Homo sapiens: one gene and its partners. The protein of the gene in region 1 purifies or fractionates together with the protein of each later gene. This does not show direct contact. Each region holds a gene or a part of one and is shown on either strand. Other genes may lie near its edges.

The links.
Region 2: the proteins of KIF23 (region 1) and YWHAE purify together in Homo sapiens (affinity purification with mass spectrometry; 4 studies listed by BioGRID and IntAct, with this or other methods). This does not show direct contact.
Region 3: the proteins of KIF23 (region 1) and ATP2A2 purify together in Homo sapiens (affinity purification with mass spectrometry; 2 studies listed by BioGRID and IntAct, with this or other methods). This does not show direct contact.
Region 4: the proteins of KIF23 (region 1) and SHCBP1 purify together in Homo sapiens (affinity purification with western blotting; 9 studies listed by BioGRID and IntAct, with this or other methods). This does not show direct contact.

The regions. Positions count from the first base shown.
Region 1 is NC_000015.10:69,438,343-69,445,384, reverse strand, and holds part of KIF23 (kinesin-like protein KIF23), read right to left. Parts: coding exon 6,980-7,042; intron 5,482-6,979; coding exon 5,308-5,481; intron 5,078-5,307; coding exon 4,898-5,077; intron 4,618-4,897; coding exon 4,306-4,617; intron 596-4,305; coding exon 344-595; intron 1-343.
Region 2 is NC_000017.11:1,343,775-1,348,264, forward strand, and holds the end of YWHAE (14-3-3 protein epsilon), read right to left. Parts: intron 1,726-4,490; coding exon 1,673-1,725; 3' UTR 501-1,672; downstream 1-500. UniProt on the Homo sapiens protein: Adapter protein implicated in the regulation of a large spectrum of both general and specialized signaling pathways. Binds to a large number of partners, usually by recognition of a phosphoserine or phosphothreonine motif.
Region 3 is NC_000012.12:110,347,206-110,351,594, reverse strand, and holds the end of ATP2A2 (sarcoplasmic/endoplasmic reticulum calcium ATPase 2), read right to left. Parts: 3' UTR 4,203-4,389; coding exon of another isoform or gene 4,183-4,202; 3' UTR 1,304-4,182; coding exon of another isoform or gene 1,290-1,303; 3' UTR 502-1,289; downstream 1-501.
Region 4 is NC_000016.10:46,583,351-46,590,392, reverse strand, and holds part of SHCBP1 (SHC SH2 domain-binding protein 1), read left to right. Parts: intron 1-3,587; coding exon of another isoform or gene 3,588-3,635; exon of another isoform or gene 3,636-3,664; intron 3,665-6,303; coding exon 6,304-6,390; exon of another isoform or gene 6,391-6,391; intron 6,392-6,735; coding exon 6,736-6,877; intron 6,878-7,042. UniProt on the Homo sapiens protein: May play a role in signaling pathways governing cellular proliferation, cell growth and differentiation. May be a component of a novel signaling pathway downstream of Shc. Acts as a positive regulator of FGF signaling in neural progenitor cells.

The DNA of each region.
Region 1 (7,042 bases):
TTTTTATCTTGAACTGATGGAGAGCAATAGGAATTCTTTGCTTAGATTACTTTAAGTAGTGGTTAAAACTAAATATACAGTCATTAAAAAATTAAAGTACATCATGGATCTAGAATTCTAAGAAACCGAAGAATCTATACCTATTTAAAGCATACTTAGTCCCAGTTTGGCAGACTTAAAACCTAAGCAGTGACTAATTTTCTGCTAACAAAAAGGTTATATCAAATACCTACTGATGTTCCAGTTGACACTACCTGTGTGTCACCAAAGGAGTAGCAGGACAAATGGACTTTTGTTGAATTTTTAAATATATTTTTTTCTCCTGTGAAAATTAGTTTTTTACCTTAATTAGTTTAGTTTCAATCTCCCCATCGGAGGCTAGTTCCTGGTGGGTCAGCATGTACTTCTCACACTTAGCTAGTGCCTTTTCATTTGCAACAGATACTGTGATGGCATGAGGGACATGTGGCTGCATGACTGTTTCAGTTTGCATGTTAGAGGCGGGCTTATGATCTACCCATCTGTCTCCTGCAGAGCGTGATCGTCTGTGTCGGAGACGAATTGGTGGTGCGTTCTGATCAGGTTGAAAGAGTAACTGAGAAACAAGCATAACCCAGAATTAATTTAAGGGTATTATTAGAAGTGCAGCAGGTTTGGCTACATTAGTTGATGACAGTATCATAGCAAACCTTTCCAAAGCTAAATATTTTATTCAAGTAATTTAAACATGATCTTTGCATTTAAACACAAAACCAACAAACATCTTTAACACCAACTTGTATGTTACACATTCTATCTGGGAGTTTCCCTTTCAATAAAGGATAAAAGAAAAAATTCTGGTAATGCTGCAAGTCTTTCCTGCTTGGGGGTGGTTCAGGACAAACAACTCATTTCATATTCTTGATCAAAAACCAATATTTATCCCTGCTATTGAGAGGTAATCTATTATGTCCACAACTCTGTTAAAATCTTCAATAAGATCAATGAAAGCCCTACACATTTTCTAGGCTTCTAAACAAAACAGAAAACAATCCTAAGAACATAGGTATAATAAGAACCATATGAATAAAATGATTAAAGAAATGTGAAATACTTCTGAGTGCTTTCAGTTAAGATTTTAAAATCTCATAATAGAACTTCATGAAAAGTTCAAATACAGTAATGGCTACAATATACCAACTAATTTTTCCCCCAAACATTTCATACAGGTTCCAAGAAACAAATAAATAATACAGTGTCAAATCAGTCTCTATCACACAATAAAAGACTAGTTGCTAGGCCAGGCATGGTGGTACATGCCTGTAATCAGCACTTTGGAAGGCCGAGGTGGAGGAATCACTTGAACTCAGAAGTTCAAGTTCAGCCTAGGCAACATGGTGAAACCCAGACTCAACAAAAACAAAACAAAACAAAACAAACAAAAATATATATATATATATTAGCTGGGCTTGGTGACACGTGCCTGTAGTCCCAGCTACTCAGGAGGTTGAGGTGGGAGGATTGCTTGAGCCCAGGAGGTGGAAATTGCAGTGAGCCAAGATCGCACCACTGCACTCCAGCCTGGGCAATAGAATGAGACCCTGCCTCAAAAACAAACAAGTTGCTTCCAGTCAAATGTCATGTAAACCTGGGAATGCTAAATTAAGCACATTCAGCCTAAGAAAATAATATGTCACATATATGCCATAGTTATAGTTTGAAGCAATGAATTATCTTTAGAATTTTATGAACATCTCCTGTTTGTAAAACTGAAAGCAGGGCTGGGTGCAGTGGCTCATACCTGTTATCCCAACATTTGTGAGGCTGAGGTGGGAGAAGGATCACCCGAGACCAGCTTAGGCAATGTAAGAAGACCCCATCTTTACAAAAAATTTAAAAATTAGCCAGGTGCGATAGCACATGCCTGTGGTCCCAGCTACTCAGGAGGCTGAGGTAGAACGATCACTTGAGCCTGGAAGGTCAAGGCTGCAGTGAGCCTAGATGACACCACTGCACTCCAGCCTGGGCAACAGATCAAGACCTCATCTCAAAAAAAAAAAAAAAAAAAAAAAAAAAAAACCCAAAAAACAAAACTGAAAGCAAATGGAAAAAGTCTATCACAGGCCAAATCTGTCAAAGCTAGTCAAGTATGAAGACCTCAATTTCAAAATGCACATCTGAGGAACTGAATCATTTTCGCTATATAGTTAACAAGAAACAAATGCAGCACTAGTGACAGCTCTAAGACATGGGCAATACAGTTTGCCACTAAAGATGCTGAGCCTCAAGACAAACAGGAACTTTCCATTCCTACAATGATTTATTTAATGTTGAACACGAAAGAAAGTCTGGTCCTTATCATCTACCATTTAGCAAAAACAAAGGTTTTCTTCAAACATTTAACAATAAGCATATGATGAAACACACTTCAGAAAGATGATAATCCATACAATCTACTAGCATTTATGAAACAAATATTTAAATTTTTTCCTCACTGAAGTATAAATTCAGTCCACCTGACATAATTTTTGACCAACAAACTTAGATGCACAGATACTAACCTTACAGTAACTTTTCTGCTGCACTTCTAAAGAGATTTTGATTTCACGTAAGAATCTCTAGTAAATTCCCTTAAATATCTCATAGCCAAATTAGATATCTCATTACGGTTTGCAAGGCATACGCAAGCCTTGAATAGTTTTCAGCCTATAAACTTTCATAAAATGACTGACTAGAGTTGGTCAGAATGACCATTTACCTAATTTGCTGTCTAAAAATGTTTAAGGAAAAATCTGCAAAGTAAAGAACTTAAGAGACTTTAGAATCATCTGTTTCCCTGGTAAATAACTTGGGATTCATCACCATCCCTTAATAATCAGGAATTCAGGCCACATAAATGAACATTCATCTATACCCTGACTTATATAAGAAAATCTAAAGTAAATGTTTACTGTAAGATTTAGAAGAAATATTCTAAGAGAGCTTTGTGAAGATTTTACTAAATATAAAATTCGCAAACATTAACTTGGTCCATTTATTCAGATTCAAAAGAAACTTTACCTTAATCTTTAAGAAGAAAAATATGAAAGTGAATTTATTTAAATACCCTTGAATGAGGCAAATGTAAATTGAGATAAATGCCTCAAGATTAAAAGCAATTTATTGGGCATGGAAATCAGTAATTTTAAAATAACTGGCCTAAACTCTTCAATGAAAATAGTCAATGTCATAAAAATAAAAAAAGTAGGGGGACAGGGTGAGACTATTTTATATTAAAAGAGATGAAAGACATAATCATGATATGCAATGCATACACTTTCATAGTATCATGGATTGAAAAAAAAGCTGGCTGGTGCAGTGGCTTGCCTGTAATCTCAGCACCTTTGGAGGCCAAGGCAGGAGGATTGCTGGAGTTCAAGAGTTCAATACCAGCCTGGGCAACATGGTGAGACCTTGTCTCTACTGAAAATAAAAAATTAGCATGGTGGCCTGCCCGTAATCTCAGCTACTTGGGAGGCTGAGGTGAGAGGATCACTTCAGCTCAGGAAGACTGAGGCTGCAGTGAGCCATAATCATGCCACTGCACTCCATCCTGGGTGACAGAGTGAGACTCTGTCTTTAAAAAAAAAAAAAGAAAAGCCAATCCAATTTTGGGACAACTGCACAATGTCTCAATAGAGGATAATTAATTAATGTTGATTTTCTTGGATGTGATAAAGATTGTGGCTAGGTAGTACAATGTCCTTATTCTTAGAGATTAAGTGTCTCTAAGTCTGTGATTTCCTTTCACAAGGCTTAGGGGAAAAAGGTTTACATATCTATATCAAGTAACAATTGGTAAACTTAGGCAAGGAGGGAAAGACATTACCATACTATTCTTTCTACTTTGCTTTGGGTCTGAAATTTTTCAAAATAAAAATTTGGGAAAACAATTTTTAAAACTAGGGCATGAAAGGAGGTATAAAAAATCTAATTTGGGGAAGGGGAACCAAAAGAAAAATATGGAAAGTATGCTTTAAGACACATTCACCAATTCTGTGCAAAGCTTATTAGCGTATGCAGCTGAAAAGCTCAGACTACTCTGGGATGCACCAAACTGACCTGTGTTCACTGAACACACTTCCGCTGCCAGATGTGTTTAGGCTTTTTCAGATGAGGAGCCAGGCCTCAATTTCCGTAAGTCAATCTTTCAAATTAACTGAGAAATTAGACCTTCTTTATACTATAGCCCAACCATTTTTCCAATGAACTTTCAGACACAAGTTACAAAAAACAAAGAAGATAAAATCTATTGCTACAATGCGTTAAAATAATACTGGCACTAACCCTGCCGCAATGATCCTCTTCTATTTCTATCTCATTTCTGAATGTAGGAACCACCTCCCTGCCTTCAGTCCAGTACATCCCTCGCCTTCTGTCTGACACGATACAAGTTTTGCTTTGTCCTGGCTCCTGCTGCCTACGCCTTGCAATAGATGTGACTTTGAGAGGTGTGTTGTACGTAGGAATTTTCTGCTCCCATTCCGAAATACAGGAAGCTACAGAAATGCTGCTGCAAGAGTTAGAGCGCCTATGTAGCTGTGGCTGGCTCATGAGTTGCTGGCCGTTGGAAATCTGAGCAATATAGTTACTAGAAAGCTAGAAAAATTGGAGAAAAATTAATGAGCAAGACTGAAAAACTGAGAGAAACAATTCATTACTTTTCTATAATGTTAGCACATGAAGACTTAACATTACAAATAATTATTTGTTCTATTTTTTTGTGCTAAATTTGTGTTTATTCTAAATTTTAAAATATTTTTAGAGAAATTTCAGAAATGTAAGTATTATAAAATGTAAAAATCCTCATAGAAATAGTCATCTAATCTGAACAAAATTTCTCTAGTACAAAGTTACTACACAATTACAAATAACTTACAGGCACAGGTGATGGAGAAACAGATCTTTGAGTAACTTTTTCTCGATCTCGCTCCCGAGAGGGTCTCTCTGGCTTCTCAGTTTTAGGTTCGGTAACAATAGCCTTCAGTTGTTTCAGCTTTTCATCTTTAACCCAGAGTTTATTCTGCATCTCCAGCTGTTTGGCTGCCACTCTACGCTCCTACAGATTATCAGTGGCAATGTATATTATCATTCCATCACAGCAAACGAGTACACCAGATTACCCAATCTCTTTATTTCCTAAAAATGACAGTTCTCCAATTCTTCCTGAGAGTTAACAACCACCACCAAAACCCTACCGCAAATACAATAATTCAAAATATCGAACCTAACTACAATGTAAAATAAATCATCCGACTCTGAGACAAGCACTACCCAAACGATACTCACACATTCTTTCTCCCACTTCATTGTCGTTTCTGTCACCATGCCTTGCAACCTGGCTTCTAATCTGCGTTTGTCAGAAAACTGTCGCTGAAGTTTCTGGTTCTGAGTTTCAAGTTCCTGTTGCAAATTGCGTTTATCTTCCTCATAGATAGTAGTTGTTTTCTCTAAAATCTCAATCTAGGAAGGTAGACCACTATGTTCAATATTTGGTATATAAACATTTCATGTCGCTATAAAATAGTCTTCCTTAATTTGCTTATGCAAGCATATTTGTGGAAAGAAACATCATGGAGAAAGCACTTTTTTCTCTAACATTTCATCTGAATTCCCACCCCCATTCTCAGAAATGAAAACATGTTAAACAAGCTCCTCACCCAAAGACATTTACAACTAACTTCATGTGAAAATTACTTTCTCCTAAAATTAAGGGCTAAAATTTAGTTTTTAGGCTATTTTCAGAATTTAAAAAAACTATATTGGTTGAGACTAACTTCTCTTATGAATGTGTACCCCCACCAAACCTCTAAATGACCCTCTGTAAATGAGAGAACAGACATACATTACACAGTGCTGCAATGCTTCCCAACAAAACGGTATTTCCTTCTACCCCATTGTAAGAGATTAATCCTGAGTTTATACTTTTACAATCGATTTGTAAACCAAATACAGATCCAATTAAGCTTTACTGAGTATCTGTTACGTCCAAGGCCCGATGCTGGCACTTTTATACCATTTCATTTAATCATTTATCTCATTAAAAAAAAAAAGCATACTAAGGAAATATTTCTAATAAATTCAAAAGCAAGCTACAACCAAAGCTAAGCTCTAGAAAGCTCCCTTGTTTGGGTCAGAGAACATCCTTTTCAACTGTTAAAACTCTCATAAAATTAAAGAACATATGATTCTTCATTTCACTCACATTTCCTCCTTAGCATGGGATGAGGATTAGTAAACAACCAATTGAGAACTTTTTTTTTTTTTTTGAGACAGGCTCTCGCTCTGTCACCTAGGCTGGAGTGCAGTCGTGCAATCCCAGCTCACTGCAGCCTCAACCTCCCAGGCTCAAGCTGTTCTCCCATCTCAGCCTTCCGAGTAGCTGGGACTACAGACATGTACCACCATGCCTGGCTAATTTTTTTTGTAGATATGGGGTTTCGCCACGTTGCCCGGTCTGGTCTGGAACTCCTGGGCTCAAGTGATCTCCCTGCCTTGGCCTCCCAATGTGCTGAGACTACAGGCATGAGCCCCCGCACTCAGCCTGAGAACTCTTTTTTTTTTTGAGACAGAGTCTTGCTCTTGTCGCCCAGGCTGGAGTGCAGTGGCTCAATCTCGGCTCACTGCAACCTCCACCTCCCCAGTTCAAGCGATTCTCCTGCCTCAGCCTCCTGAGTAGCTGGGATTACAGGCACTCGCCACCACGCCCAGCTAACTTTTGTACTTTTTTAGTAGAGATGGGCTTTTGCCATGTTGGCCAGGCTCGTTCTTGAACTCCTGACCTCAGATGATCTGGCCACCTCAGCCTCCCAAAGTGTTGGAATTACCTGCATGAGCCACCGCACTCAACCGAGAACTCTTAATAAGCAGCATTTACAGGCCGTTGGAGCACAATATCTCCCTCAGAGAACAGTGCTAAAACACCAGCACATACATCTATCATAATAATGTCAAAACAAACCTTATATTCTAAAGTTTTGTTTTTCTTTTCCAGTCGTTCTATTTCCAATTTCTGTCCTGAGAT
Region 2 (4,490 bases), on another chromosome or scaffold:
AAGACAAGTGTGACGAGGAAGGATTTATCAACTGAAAAATGTTTACTGACACAGGGAATCTAGAAATGTACCTTCCAGATACATACAAATATTTAAGCAAAAACTGTTCCAAGGGTATTTCCTGCAGCACCTGCCCAAAAGGAGCAAACTGGTCTTAACAAAATCAGGTGTACATCAATGTTACGCAGTCAGAATGAGACACATCTGAATGCCTAACATAAAAAGATCTACAGTAACTAGGTATCTATACACATTGATGTATAAACTGTTTATGGAAAGAAGCTTCTTATACAGTGTTTCTGGAAAGGGAGACTGCTATCCTGCTGTCTATAATGTGTGTATGGATTACTAAGAAAGGATTGAGTAATTCTCCACTACTGCCACTAGCCTCTGGAGGAAGAGGGCACACAGTTTTTACCTCTAAGAATTATTATAAGACATTCAGCCTTATTTGGTTGTATGAAATACTATGCTAGAAAATGATCCATAATTACACCTTGTACTACTCATGTTGTACTTTAATGATTAAAATAAATACCATGTTGCTGCCTGGTCTGGAGGACAAGACACACCATCAACTGACTCAGTGTTCTTCACAACCAGACTACAGGCAATTTTTTTCCAAAACATACATCTTTGGGAAGCAAACAAATTATTTATGGAAGAAAAAAGGAGGAATGTTTCACATTCAGGCAAACATAATACTGTCAGTGTGTTTGGACTAGAGATTTTATTTTAGAAGTATAAAGGATGGAGGCGCGATATTTGGCATTTTTAATTTAGGTTTGTTTTATTTAAGTTTAATGTTAATTCCATGCTGTGTTTCAGTAAGAACAATACAGATTCTGTATCTGTGGCTCCAGTCAGATATCCAGTAGTACAAATTAGCTTCAAGTTACACATACTGAACAAAAGAGGTTGAGCGAGCGAAGGAGGGGAGGAGTGAGGGGAAGGAGGTAGGGGGAGGGGGAAGGAGAAGAAACAAAAGAATTGAACAGGCATGCAGGCTTTTCCATACCACCTTCAACGCTAACCTGCTTCAGTGGGAGAGTAAAGTAGGCAAGAATGAGCAGCCACGGATTGTTGAACTGTTACCAGCACCATGCTTTTCAGCAACATTTCAGCGGAGTTGGAAACATTTTTTACAGCAAAACCATTACAACGAAGTCCCTCCCCAAACCACCTTTAACCATCTCAAGCTAACACCCAATTACTTGCAAACACTGGTATAAAACACAGTTTAAACAATTAGAAAAATGAAAACTGATACCACTTATGCCTCTATAGTGTGATTAACCTCTCTCTTAGATGCTTGCATCACCTATAAGTCTAATGGCTTTCAAATGTAATTTCCATTTGCTAATGGTGATCTTGCCACATCTGGCACGGAGACGACACAGTAATGCTGAAAAAGCCTCTATGTAGTCCTGTTAGTGTCTTAAAGAACCTAAAAGCTGGGACCAGTAAAATCCACAGAAATTCACTCTTGCCTTTAAGAACTTTTGAAAACTGTTTAAAAAAAAAAAAAAAAAACCAACAGGGCAGGAACCTAAATTCTGAGACCAAATGTAAAAGTCAGATTTGGTGGTTCTCAGTGACAATGGGGAGTTTCCAAAGGGTGGGATGGGGAGGAGGGGGTGGTCAGAGATGGTTTCTCTTGTTGGCTTATGTCTCACTGATTTTCGTCTTCCACGTCCTGCAGCGCTTCTTTATTCTGCTCTTCACCTGTTAAAAAAGAAAAAAAGTCAATTATTTCGTATTGACTACATTAGGCTATGGCAGCCACAAACAAAGGTGTCATTCCAAGCATAAAGACTCTTCTACTTGCTACAATTGGTATTAAACGCAGGCAAAGGACTTCTATCATCCTTGACACCTGAGATGCCTAAGCCAAGAAGGGATTATGGTCCTGAAAGTATTTATTGGTCAACAGAATGAAAAAAACTGATGCGCAGTACAACTCAATGTTTTTACGCTAAATAAGCTCTTGACGTAGACAGCCAAGGAAACCATCTTACTAAAATGACATTCAAGCTTTCACATAAATCTTGGGTCAAAATACTCTTTCTCAATAACCTCACCTCTTCAAGAATCAAGAGTATTTTGCAAACTTTTTGCAAAATCTAATTTACCCACAAGCTAATTATCAGAAATGCTTCAAAATAGTTAACTGAGCAATAAACTGTTGCCAAGAAGTTCTATCGTATTTTATTGTGGGGTTCTGCTGTTATAAATATTTCAGCTTTTGTATCTTGGCCAGATACACCAAACTATAATCAGATTTTACTTCAGAGTGAAACACAGCATGCTCAAAGTAAATCAGACCACTGAGGTTATTAAAGAATGGCATTTGGACCACTTCACTCATGCTATTTGTCTTTTGCCTTTAAAGAGGGTGATTACCCTAAGGAGTTTCAACTGCACTATGACATGCAACAGAAAGCCACCTATTGGTTGGAGGGTCATCTACCTATTAGTATGCATTAAACAAGTCAGCCAAAATAAAGAAGCATGCAGGCTTTTCCCTTAAAAATGATGTAACAGGTAAAAGTTACATTCACTTGTACTTTTTTAAAAAAACCACTTACAATTACTACACAGTTAACTAGTTTGAAACAAAATAAATGAAAAATCAACCCAAGAATCATAAATGTTCAAATGACTATCCATTCATAATGCTTGTTAAATTATTTAATTAGGATGGACAAATAACACCAAACTAGCTGCCTACACACATGAAGCATTTACACTGAGTACAGCTTTGAAACAGCCTAAATGATCTCAAAATGACAAATGTCACAGCATCAAGGTTTCAGTAGTTTTCAAATCTCTTCTGCGGCGGAAACGCTTGACATTGCTGTGTGACTTCAAAACCCACTTACAGCCTCAGCAACACAGTGAAGCCCTGTCTCTACAAAAAATGAACATAACGCCGGGCACGGTGGCTCACGCCTGTAATCCCAGCACTTTGGGAAGCAAAGGCGGGCGGATCACGAGGTCAGAAGATCAAGACCATCCTGGCTAACACAGTAAATCCCCATCTCTACTGAAAAAATAATACAAAAAATTAGCCTGGCGTGGTGGCACATGCCTGTAATCCCAGCTACCTGGGAAGCTGAGGCATGAGAATTGCTTGAACCCAGGAGACGGAGGTTGCAGCGAGCCAAGAACATGCCACTACACTCCAGCCTGGGTAACAGAGTGAGACTCCGTCTCAAAAAAAAAAAAAAAAGAATAAATAAAACTAAAAGTAAAAAACTATGTATGCTGGAGCCAGGCATGGTGGCTCACGCCTGTAATACCAGCACTTTGGGAGGCCAAGAGAGGTGGATCATGAGGTCAGGAGATCGAGACCATCCTGGCTAACACAGTGAAACCCTGTCTCTACTAAAAATACAAAAAAAAAAAAAAAAAATTAGCCAGGCATGGTGGCAGGCGCCTGTAGTCCCAGCTACTCGGGAGGCAGGAGAATGGCGTGAACCCAGGAGGCGGAGCTTTCAGTGAGCCAAGATTCTGCCGCTGCACTCCAGCCTGGGCGACAATCGAGACTCCGTCTCAAAAAAAAAAAAAACTACATACGCTGGGCATGGGGCCACATGTCTATAGTCCCAGCTACTTGGGGGGCTGAGGTGGGGGAGTTCTATTTCTGCAGTGAGCTTTGAACGCCACTGCACTCCAGGCGGGGCAACAAGAGCAAAACTCCGTCTCAAAAAAATGTATAAAATTTTAAAACTACTTAAAATACATGAAGATCTTTAATTCATAAGACAGAAAAAAAATATGCAAAGGCAAAAAAAAATTGCTTAGGGATGAAAGAACTGATGGGCACCCAACTGTTCTCCAAAGGACAATAACGTATTCAAACGTAGGAAACATGATAGGAACATTCACTCTAACAGCAAATCACTGCCAAAGTATCATTAACACAAACACTAGAACACAACTCGCTTGTAAGCAACCATGAGATGTGCCAGAAGTTCCAAGTAACTTTGGCATAAAAATGTCACTGTCATATACATCACATCCAACCACAGTAGGCAGGAGGAGCAGGCCGGAAAAGGCTTAGGTCAGCGCCCTGGAAGGTGGAACAGGCAGAGTCTGTAAGCAACAGGACGATCATACGCAGGCATGATTAGTGAAGAACCAAAACTGAAAGCGGAATTCACTGTGCCATGAACGTGACTTACAAAGTAGAGTTTTTAGGAAAGGAAGAGTTGGGTTTTCCTTTAGGAATCTATATTGCAAGGAAAAAGGGAGGGAGAACAATCATATGAAAGCAACATTACAAGAAAAATAAACCAACAGAGCAGGACAAAGGAAAACAATGATACAGGAGCCGGACTTTGGTCTTACTTCGTGTAAACTTCACTCTAAGCAACAATCTGTCTACTCCTCCTCCCTTCTACTCTGAGAAGGAAGTAATATCCTCTTGAAAGACATACAGATATTAGGGGAAAAAGGATTCCTTGGCTATGTTTCTTTGCCCAGTG
Region 3 (4,389 bases), on another chromosome or scaffold:
CTGCCAAATAAGCACTAAAGTAACCAGCAAATGAATTCCAACAGCTGCTTCAGTTCTGTTCACCTCTCCATCCCATACCTATCAACAACGGGGAATGTGGAAGTTTTGGATCTGAACAGCCTAAGAAACATCTCTCCATTGCTAGTCTCCAGATCTTTCCAGGCTGCTAACAATGGAGAGCGCGGAGTCTTGGCTTTCTTCACCACACTGACGAGTGAGGCCTTGTGTGTTTAAGACCCCACTGGTAACACACACTCAGCTTCCCCCATCCTTAAAGGGTAGGGAGCCAGGGTGGGCTTCACATGGGCGGACCTGCTGCCAGTCAGCCTGTCTACTGTGAAGTCGAGTCCAAGAGGTTCCTGTCCCCTCTAGTCACATGGCCACCCTGCCCAGACTGAGCCTCCCCTGCTTCCCTGTAGAGGGGCAGGCCCGGGTGCGGAGTGGAGGCCCTTGGTGCCCATCAGTCCCCCTCCCACAGAACAGTCACCACCACACTGAGAATTTATCATAGAATAGATTTATTTACCTGAAACCATGTCTGTGCGACGCTCATTGTTACCAGCACAGAAAGAAACAAACTGATCTCTATTTACAGTCTAAAGTCAAACATGCGCAGTGATAAATTGACATTTAGCATTTTATTAAGATAAATGCATCACAATATTTGTATTGCACCAACATCTGTCTACTGCTTCTGATTTCATTAAATAAGTTACATTTAATACAGTGCGAAATAGCTGTCTGCACACTCAGAAAATAACTGAAAATGAACTGGAGGCCTACATTTTAACCATTCAACACCTGTAGTGTTTTTAATGAATTTATAAATAAGCAAACTGTACAGGGCCAATTAAAAAGTAGCATGTTCCAATGTCACTGGAGAGGGATCTGGCTACTTACAACCGAAGGCATGCATTACAATTGAATACTGTACATTTATATAAGCTATGACATTTTGCAGAGAAATGTGGCGACTTGGCTGACGGCTTCCAAGTTCTTAGATAAGGTTACAGAGCCTCATTCCTCTTGCAGCAAAGAAACCAAACTTCTCTGGAGAGGCTTTCTGATTAAGCTAAATTGTACATCTGTAATCAGTATTTTGATTTAAAAGCTAACAACCCCATTGGTAATACACATTTCCTCCACATAACACAAAGTGAGTTGGGAAGTTTTTTACTTTTCTTTTTCCCCAACATCAGTCATGCACAGGGTTGGTAGATGTGTTGCTAAAAACGCACATGCACGCAACCGAACACCCTTACATTTCTGCAAAATGGTTTAGGAAGCGGTTACTCCAGTATTGCTGAAAAGGAAAGAGAGAGGAAATCAGCTTCATGAAATACAGAGAGGAAACGTTAGAATACCTATTTAAATAGATGAAGATCAACAGCGACAGATGAAAAGGAACATTCAGCTTGATCTTTTCAAGGTTTCAAGACCAGCATTTCTGATTTACTGTCCCTGAGGTGCCGCCCACACAGGGTAGCATCTAGAAGCACTGGCTCAGTGACACAGACTCCTCGTGTCGTCTGGCTACAGAATAAAGGCTCTGGAGGAAAACCCCATGAGGCAGACACAATCGTTGCAGCTGTGAAAGCAGCGAGACAGGCAAGAGGACAAGGTCTTGGTTAGTGGTGCAGAGGGTGAGGTTGATGGAGAAGTGAGCAGCCAGTAGCAGCACAGCCTTCCTGTCCCTGCCCTGTGGGCACCCGGCTTCTGGCTGCTCGCCTGCCTTGCCTAGCCCTGGAGAGGAAACTCCTCCGCATCATTCTCCTCAGTAAAGGAGGGTGAAGCCTACCCTTCTTGCTAACTGCAGCGGGTGTTTGGACAATTTGGTGGTTACAGTCACAGGGCAACTGCTGGCTCTGCTCACAGGCACTGCAGACGTGGTATGCTCTGGCCCTGGACAGTGGCTAGATGCTTGGTAGACACTGAGCTAATCTTGTGGTCTCAGGTCTTAGGTCTGCCCACCTCAGTCAGGGCTGAAGCTCCAGTCCGAGGGGATGTGGGAGCAGCTGTTGTGAGGGAAGTCGGCCAGATGCCCTGCTTGCCTGGGAGCTCACTGAGCTCAAGGGACAGCTTCCTCCAGAATGGATCATCTGCATTCTGCAGAGTGGTGTCCCAGTTAGGGTATGTATGATTGTTGGTCTTCTGGGCAAAGCTCAGAGAGGCCAAGGGAGGCACGGGGTGGCAACAAGCGACACTGATGGCTGGGCCTTCAGCCACCTGCCCATCAGGAAAGAATGTGGAAGTAAGTTTCAGGCAAGAGCTGCCTGACAGCAGGCACATTGCGGGGCTGGGCAGCTGCTGCCTCACTGTTAGGTGAGGGCCTGAGGCCAGGGATGTGCCAAGACCACGGTGCTGGACCTGGTCTTTATGGGTTGACCTGAGGAGGAGATGCTGAAGTGTTTTCACCCAGCAAAGCCTTCAGTGAAATGGAGCAAGTGGCCCTGCTCAAAACAGCAGTGGGCCTAACCCACTCCCAGCTGTCTGGACCAAGGGAAGTGGGTCCCTCCATGGGCTCCTCTGTGGGCTGGAGGGGTCTGAAGCTGAGAAACCATGAAGCTAACTAGGGGCTGTGCGACAGCAGGCCACACACTACTCAACTTTTTTTGTAAAGGCCACTAAGTCAAGGAACTGAGTCAGGAAAAGCTGAGTTTTGTTTGCACGGAATAGCAATAGTGCAGCACTCAAGTCAGTTTGCAGCCCAGAGATGCACTCCTTGCATTTGGCCCATTCAACCCATTTCTTGTTACACCTCATGATGCTCAAACTGGCAAAATTTACCCCCTGCCCCAAATGTTCCCTGCTGGGCAAAGCAGCCTCCCTTCCCGAGAGCCACAGCTGCCTGCGAGCAGCCTTGGAGGCTTCACAGTAAGGCTGATTTTTTTTTGACAGGGCCTCACTCTGTTGCCCAGGCTGGTTTGAGTACCTGGGCTCAAGCAATCCTTCTGCTGTGGCCTCCAAAGGGCTGAGACTTACTTACAGGCATGAGCCACCACACCCAACCACGGACTGTGCTTTTAAGAGTCGGTCTCCAGGTTCCACCTCCATCCCTTGAACGTGGGCCCTCTGAACTCAGCAGCACCTTGTCCTGCTTGATGCCTCCTAACCCTCCCCAAACTCCAACCATCTGCATTACATCTACTGGCCATCCCAGTAACCAGAGCCTAAGTACATTTTGAAGAATATAGTCGAGGCCTCACACCCTGGCTAAGGAGTAAGCTGGTTTTTGGGCTGTGCAGAGCCACGTCCTACTAACTGTGCTTTAACATCCCCTGCAGAGCTAAGTCTTAGCCACCAAGGACAAGACCAAGCAAGGGGGGGTGGGGGAGTGGGGAAGTGGCCTATTTAAGACGAACCTATCGATACCCAGAGTTCACTGGTTCAGTTACTTGCTTTCACTAGTTTTTAGCTTTTTAATAAATAAGTAGCAATGTTCTGGGATGACTCCTGGCAGCTGCGAACCCTCATTTTAGCAATAGTCTGCACAGCTCCTTCAGCCTGTTGGTCTGGCTGAAATGCCTCTCTCCCCACTCCGGCTTTTGTCTGGCTTGGGCCCTCCTGGTCATCTTGTCCTAGGCAGCCTGTGGAGGTCTATGAAAGCCACACCTCCAGCCAGCTGATGCTGCGCCCGAGTCACATGGCAGGCGCCACAGGCAACCCCGGTGCTCACAGGGCATCAGGGAGCACAGCAGCATCTGCCATGGAGGCGGCTTATAAGTTAGTGACATACAGTTATCTCACTTGGTGGCAGTCACCTTTAGGCTAAAGCATCCAAATCCCAGGAAGAAAATACTCACGTTAGTTGATGGATGTTGGAAGGCATTGGAGGAAAACACCACAGTTAGGACTGTTAATGACTTACACACTGTTGGTGAGACTCATCTCGAACATGCGCAAACATTGATCGTAGTAACGGTGGTGGTGGTTAGTGCCACATTCAAATAAAAATAGTTCTATACAATATGTTCATTTGGTCATGTGCTATTTACAGATTTTACAAAACACACACATACACACACATACACACTTGCCCTTATGTTCTCTATACCAGGCCAGCAGAAACTTGCATAAAATGTACATCACAGATGACAATTAGTGCCTGTACATTAAGAATACAATTCCTATGACTACCTACACAGCAGAGCAGGAGCCTTCTTCCCCTCAAGCAGAGTACAACTAAAGTTCTGAGCTAAGAACTGGAGAGAAAGTTGGACATGTCTGTTAGTCCCAGGTAAGCCACTTACGAGTTAAAGACAAGACAGTTATTTTTCTCTGTCCATTTAAAATGTTTTATTTTTTTAAAACTAGATGACGTGCCACTGAAATAGGCAATGTTGGCAAAACAATGTCTGTTACAATAAAATACATTAGACATTTAAATAA
Region 4 (7,042 bases), on another chromosome or scaffold:
GCATTCTGTAGGTTGCCTGTTCACTCTGATGGTAGTTTGTTCTGCTGTGCAGAAGCTCTTTAGTTTAACTAGATCCCATTTGTCAATTTTGGCTTTTGTTGCCATTGCTTTTGGTGTTTTAGTCATGAAGTCCTGCCATGCGTATGTCCTGAATGGTATTGCCTAGATTTTCTTCTAGGGTTTTAATGGTTTTAGGTCTAACATTTAAGTCTTTAATCCATCTTGAATTAATTTTTGTAAGGTGTAAGGAAGGGATCCAGTTTCAGCTTTCTACATATGACTAGCCAGTTTTCCCAGCACCATTTATTAAATAGGGAATCCTTTCCCCATTTCTTGTTTTTGTCAGGTTTGTCAAAGATCAGATGGTTGTAGATGTGTGGTATTATTTCTGAGGGCTCTGTTCTGTTCCATTGGTCTATATCTCTGTTTTGGTACCAGTACCATGCTGTTTTGGTTACTGTAGTCTTGTAGTATAGTTTGAAGTCAGGTAGCGTGATGCCTCCAGCTTTGTTCTTTTGGCTTAGGATTGTCTTGGCGATGTGGGCTCTTTTTTGGTTCCATATGAACTTTAAAGTAGTTTTTCCAATTCTGTGAAGAAAGTCCTTGGTAGCTTGATGGGGATGGCATTGAATCTATAAATTACCTTGGGCAGTATGGCCATTTTCATGATATTGATTCTTCCTATCCATGAGCATGGAATGTTCTTCCATTTGTGTCCTCTTTTATTTCATTGAGCAGTGGTTTGTAGTTCTCCTTGAAGAGGTCCTTCACATCCCTTATAAGTTGGATTCCTAAGTATTTTATTCTCTTTGAAGCAATTTTGAATGGGAGTTCACTTATGATTTGACTCTCTGTTTATCTGTTATTGGTGTATAGGAATGCTTGTGATTTTTGCACATTGATTTTGTATCCTGAGACTTTGCTGAAGTTGCTTATCAGCTTAAGGAGATATTGGGCTGAGACGATGGGGTTTTCTAGATATGCAATCATGTCATCTGCAAACAGGGACAATTTGACTTCCTCTTTTCCTAATTCAATACCCTTTATTTCTTTCTCCTGCCTGATTGCCCTGGCCAGAACTTCCAACACTATGTTGAATAGGAGTGGTGAGAGAGGGCATCCCTGTCTTGTGTGACAGTTTTCAAAGGGAATGCTTCCAGTTTTTGCCCATTGATTATGATATTGGCTGTGGGTTTGTCATAAACAGCTCTTATTATTTTGAGATACATCCCATCAATACCTAGTTTATTGAGAGTTTTTAGCATGAGACGCTGTTGAATTTTGTTGAAGGCCTTTTCTGCATCTATTGAGATAATCATGTGGTTTTTGTCTTTGGTTCTGTTTATATGATGGATTACGTTTATTGATTTGCATATGTTGAACCAGCCTTGCATCCCAGGGATGAAGCCAACTTGATCATGGTGGATAAGCTTTTTGATGTGCTGCTGGATTCGGTTTGCCAGTATTTTATTGAGGATTTTTGCATCGATGTTCATCAGGCATATTGGTCTAAATTCTCTTTTTTTGTTGTGTCTCTGCCAGGCTTTGGTATCAGGATGATGCTGGCCTCATAAAATGAGTTAGGGAGGATTCCCTCTTTTTCTATTGATTGGAATAGTTTCAGAAGGAATGGTACCAGCTCCTCTTTGTACCTCTGGTAGAATTCGGCTGTGAATCCGTCTGGTCCTAGACTTTTTTTGATTGGTAGGCTATTAAATATTGCCTCAATTTCCGAACCTGTTACTGGTCTATTCAGAGATTCAACTTCTTCCTGGTTTAGTCTTGGGAGGGTGTATGTGTTGAGGAATTTATCCATTTCTTCTAGATTTTCTAGTTTATTTGCATAGAGGTGTTTATAGTGTTCTCTGATGGTAGTTTGTATTTCTGTGGGATTGGTGGTGATATCCCCTTTATTAGTTTTTATTGCATCTATTTGATTCTTCTCTCTTTTTTCTTCTTTATTAGTCTTGCTAGTGGTCTGTCAATTTTGTTAATCTTTTCAGAAAACCAACTCCTGGATTCATTGATTTTTTGAAGGGTTTTTTGTGTCTCTATTTCCTTCAGTTCTTCTCTGATCTTAGTGATTTCTTGCCTTCTGCTAGCTTTGGAATGTGCTTTCTCTTGCTTCTCTAGTTCTTTTAATTGTGATGTTAGGGTGTCAATTTTAGATCTTTCCTGCTTTCTCTTGTGGGCATTTAGTGCTATAAATTTCCTTCTACACACTGCTTTAAATGTGTCCCAGAGATTCTGGTATGTTGTGTCTTTGTTCTCGTTGGTTTCAAAGAACATCTTTGTTTGTGCCTTCATTTCGTTATGTACCCAGTTGTCATTCAGGAGCAGGTTGTTCAGTGTCCATGTAGTGGAGCAGTTTTGTTTTGAGTGAGTTTCTTAATCCTCAGTTCTAGTTTGATTGCACTGTGGTCTGAGAGACAGTTTGTTATAATTTCTGTTCTTTTATATTTGCTGAGGAGTGCTTTACTTCCAACTATGTGGTCAATTTTGGAATAAGTGTGATGTGGTGCTGTGAAGAATGTATATTTTGTTGATTTGGGGTGGAGAGTTCTGTAGATGTCTATTAGGTCCGCTTGGTGCAGAGCTGAGTTCAATTCCTGGGTATCCTTGTTAACTTTCTGTCTTGTTGATCTGTCTAATGTTGACAGTGGGGTGTTAAAGTCTCCCATTATTATTGTGTGGGAGTCTAAGTCTCTTTGTAGGTCTCTAAGGGCATGCTTTATGAATCCGGTGCTCCTGTATTGGGTGCATATATATTTAGGATAGTTATATGCACCCATATATATTTAGGATAGTTAGCTCTTGTTGAATAGTCTTTTTCTATTGTTTTAATTTCAACTTGCCTATATTCTGTTTGAAGTGAGTTGTAGACAGCATATAGTTGAGTCATGTTTTTAATCCACTTTGGCAATCTTTGTCTTTTAATTGTATTTAGACCACTTACATTTAATTATTGATATTAAATCTTTAGTTTATTTCGTGTTTTCTGTTTGTTATGCTTTTCATTTCTTGATTTGCTTTTTTTCTGCCATCCTGTGGATAGCTGAACATTTTTCAGAATTTCATTTGTTTTTGAGAATATCTCTTCATATAACTTTTTTAGTGGTCGCCCTAGGTTGTATATTATATGTACATAACAGTTTACTGGTGTCACCAGTTCAAGTAAAGTATAGAAACCTTGCCTCCTTTTATTATTCTCTACCATCTCCTTTTTATAATTGTCTTAAACATTTGCCTTATGTACGTACATCTAGAACCATATTAGAGAATTTTATGATTTTTGTTTCAAATGTCAAACATAATTTAGAACACTCAAGAGAAGGAAAGCTTATTGTATTTACCTATATCTTTGCTTACTGTGTTCTTTTTTTTTCTTTTTGATGTTCCAGGATCTTCTCTTTTATCATTTCTTTTTTGTTTAGATAACTTCCTTTAGTCATTCTATGAAGATACGTCTGCTGGTGACAAATTTTCCTATTTTTCCTTCTTCTTAGAATATCTTGATTTCCTCCTCATTCCTGAAGAATATTTTCACTGGTTATAGGATTCTGGGTTGACAATTTTTTTTCTTTTAGCCCTTGAACAATACTGTGTGTCTTTCATCTGACGTCCATGGTTTCTGATGCTGTCAATCACATTTTCTCTCCTATAGGTAAGGCATAAAATTTTAATTGATGCTTTCAAGATTTTTGTTTTAAGCTTACACTAGTTTAATTATGATGTATGTTGGCGTGGATTTCTTTGAGTTTATCCTGTTTGGTGTCTGCTCAGCTTCTTGAACCTGTAGGCTTATTATCCAAATCCTGCCAAATTTGGGAGCTTTTAGTCACTATTTCTTGAAGTATGTTTTTAGCCTCACCCTCTTTCTTTCCAGGACTCTGATGACATGAATATTGGATCTTTTGTTATATTCCAGCAGACCCCTGGAGCTCTGTTTACTTTTCTTTTTCACTGTTTTCTCTGCTATTGGGTAAATTTTACTGTTCTGTCTTCCAGTTCACTGATTCTTTCCTCTGTTGTTTTCATTCTGCTGTTGAGCACATCCATTGAGCTTTCTATTTCAGTTATTGTATTTTTCAATTCTAAAATTTCCATTTGGTTCTTTATATCATCTACTTCTTTGCTGAGACTTCATTTTTCATTGGTTTTATGTGTGTTCATAATTGCTTATTGAAGCATTTTTATCATGGCTGCTTTAAAATCACTGTCAGTTAATTCTATCATCTCTGACATCTTGGTTTTGGCATCTGTTAATTGTCTTATTCATTTTGACATTTTCCTGATTCTTGGTATGACAAGGGATTTTCAAATGAAAGTTGGATATTTTTATATTATGTTGTGAGAATCTGGATCTTCTGTTTTAACTTGGCTTCTCTGATACTACTACAAGAAGGGACAGGGTTGGCGGTAGATGGGTATCATCTTGTTACTGGTGGAGGTAGAAGTCATGGTTCCCACTTGGCGTTCATTGATACCCAAGTTGGGTGGGGGAGCTCCTTCTTACTGCTATGTAGGGGTGGGAGGTCTAGCTTCCTACATGGTCTCCACTGGCACTGTGATATATGGGAGTGGTCTTGTTACCAGTGGGCAATGGTGAAAGTCTGGAATCTCCACTAGGCCTGCTCTGACACTGCCCCAGTAGGGAGGGAGTGGTTGTCTTGGCACTGCCAGGTGGGGGTACAAGTCCAGGCTCCTCATATAGTTTTCACTGACACTGCTGCAGGGAGGGCCTTGCAACTGTGGTTGGTGGGGATGAAAGTCCTGGCTCTGTGGTGTTTACCTGGAATAGAGCTATTATTATCTAAAAGTTTTCCTCTTTCTAGGTTGCCTAGTCCTTTCGTTAGAGCAGCTTTTTTTTGGGTGTATGTCTGTTGGTGTACTGGATTGCTGGCTTCTTCAGCTCCAAGTCTAGGGATTATGAAGCAAAAAGAAAGGAACTTACCACTGTGTTGGTGTTGTTTCTTGGGTCCTGAGGTCCCTAGCTGGTCTGCCTTCTTCTCTCCATTTTTCAGTCTTATGCTTGTTTTATATATAATGCCCATGGTTTTTGGTCGTACCTAGCAGGAGGAATAGGGACATCTACTCCATCATCCCAGAAGTGGCAGGCTCCTCAGTTACTTTTTAATTGCCAAATTATCTGTTCCTTTTCATAACATATTTTGAATATGACTTTCACTTGCTACATGACTGCTGGTTTAAATTGTTCTCCTTTACAAATTTTATGTGATTCCTGACAGTTTGATATTTAATTTTAACCATCTTGCTATAGATATTTTTAAACATAGTCGCCCCAAAATCTTTTTTTGCACATAACCCCAAACTGAAAATCTCTTAGAAGACACAATTAGCACATTTTTAAAATCCTCTCTACAAAAGAGTTAGATTGGTGTATACATATGGTTCAGGCATATGTACAGGGTTAAGTAATAATAAATGTTTTCTCATGGAATACTACTGCTACTAGAAAATTAACTGAACATACATGCATTAGATGTGTCATCAATGGTTACAGCAACTCTTCTTCATCGATGCTGTTGTGCATTAAATTATTCCCAAATGGTTGCTGAAATAACTATAGAGGTTTGAGTGAATCATTTTTGTTTTCCAGAGTGCCTTGCATAGCATTAGGAAAGAAATTCTTACTATTTTTATGTTTTTTGGTGCCATAAGGTATGAGAGAATAGTGTCATGTTTGATCTTTCTGGTTACTCTGTTTGAATGACACTTGAACTGGCTGCTGATGTTAACGTGTGTGGTAGGGAAAGCCATTGTTGGACTCATAGAAATGATTTTTAAGTTGGGTTGGGGTATTTTAAAACTGACACGTTTTGGAAAATGTGGGGTCTTGTTTCTATCCTCAAATTACAATATTTTACTAAATTCAAATACTTATCTCCAACTAATTGAGTATCTGAGAGAATGGTCATTTTGAATAAGTGTGTCTTTCAACAAAATTGTTAAATGACTTTTTTTTTTTCTTGGCAGAATCAGAAAACATTTATCTAGAATGAAAGAGAGTAGAGCAAGAATCAAGTGTTGGCACTCTTAGCGTGTGTGTGTGTGTGTGTGTGTGTGTGTGTGGTTTTGAAAATGATAAATTGTCAACAACTTGCTAGAAATGGAACAAATGGAAATGTTGATTAAAAATGGCTGGTAAAACTTATCTGTAAAGTACTTTATCTTTGTGCTGTACATTTGTACTGTGTTAAAGGCTAAGAAGTAATTGTAATAAACTCTTATAGTCTTGCCTTTTAAAAACTGATTGTCATTATCTCAAACTGTGACTCACAGGGTGCTGGTATAGAAATCTACCCTGGGAGTCAGTGCACCCTGAGTGACAATGGGATCCATCACTGCAAGGAAGGGATCCTCATTAAGGTGAGCATCAGCCAAAACACCCACTTTTCAATGGATAGAATGGTTTTACCTACAAATTATGCTTTATTAAATTGTTGGGTTCTATTTTCTGGTTTTGAAAAGCATAAACAGTGTACACATTTTGATAATATCAGTGATTGGAATCTCTTGTGAGAATGCTGTTACCTATAGATCTGCAGAAATGACAGAGGAAAGCTGTGTCACTAAGGGTGCAGACTGTGCTACAACATGGGACTAAACATAGCTTTTTCCTTTTATTTTTAGAATAGTGTGAATAAAGAAGATTTTTAAGGCAGGAAATGTTGAATATGACAGTTCCTAAAACATTTGTTTTCAATGTCACAGGACTTCTTAGATGAACATTATGACATTCCCAAGATATCCATGGTGAATAATATAATACATAATAATGAAGGTTATGGTGTTGTCTTGGTGAAACCTACAATCTTCTCTGACCTGCAAGAAAATGCTGAAGATGGAACTGAAGGTATATTTAGTAATTTTTAATATAAAAACCAGACATAATTTATTTCAGCATTAAATGCTGATTAAGGATCTGAGTCTTCCTCTCTTCCTTAAAAAAGGTTGTTGGGATATGCTTGGGCATGGAGAGAGAGAAGCTTGGTAACATTAAGTCATAACATTACAGACT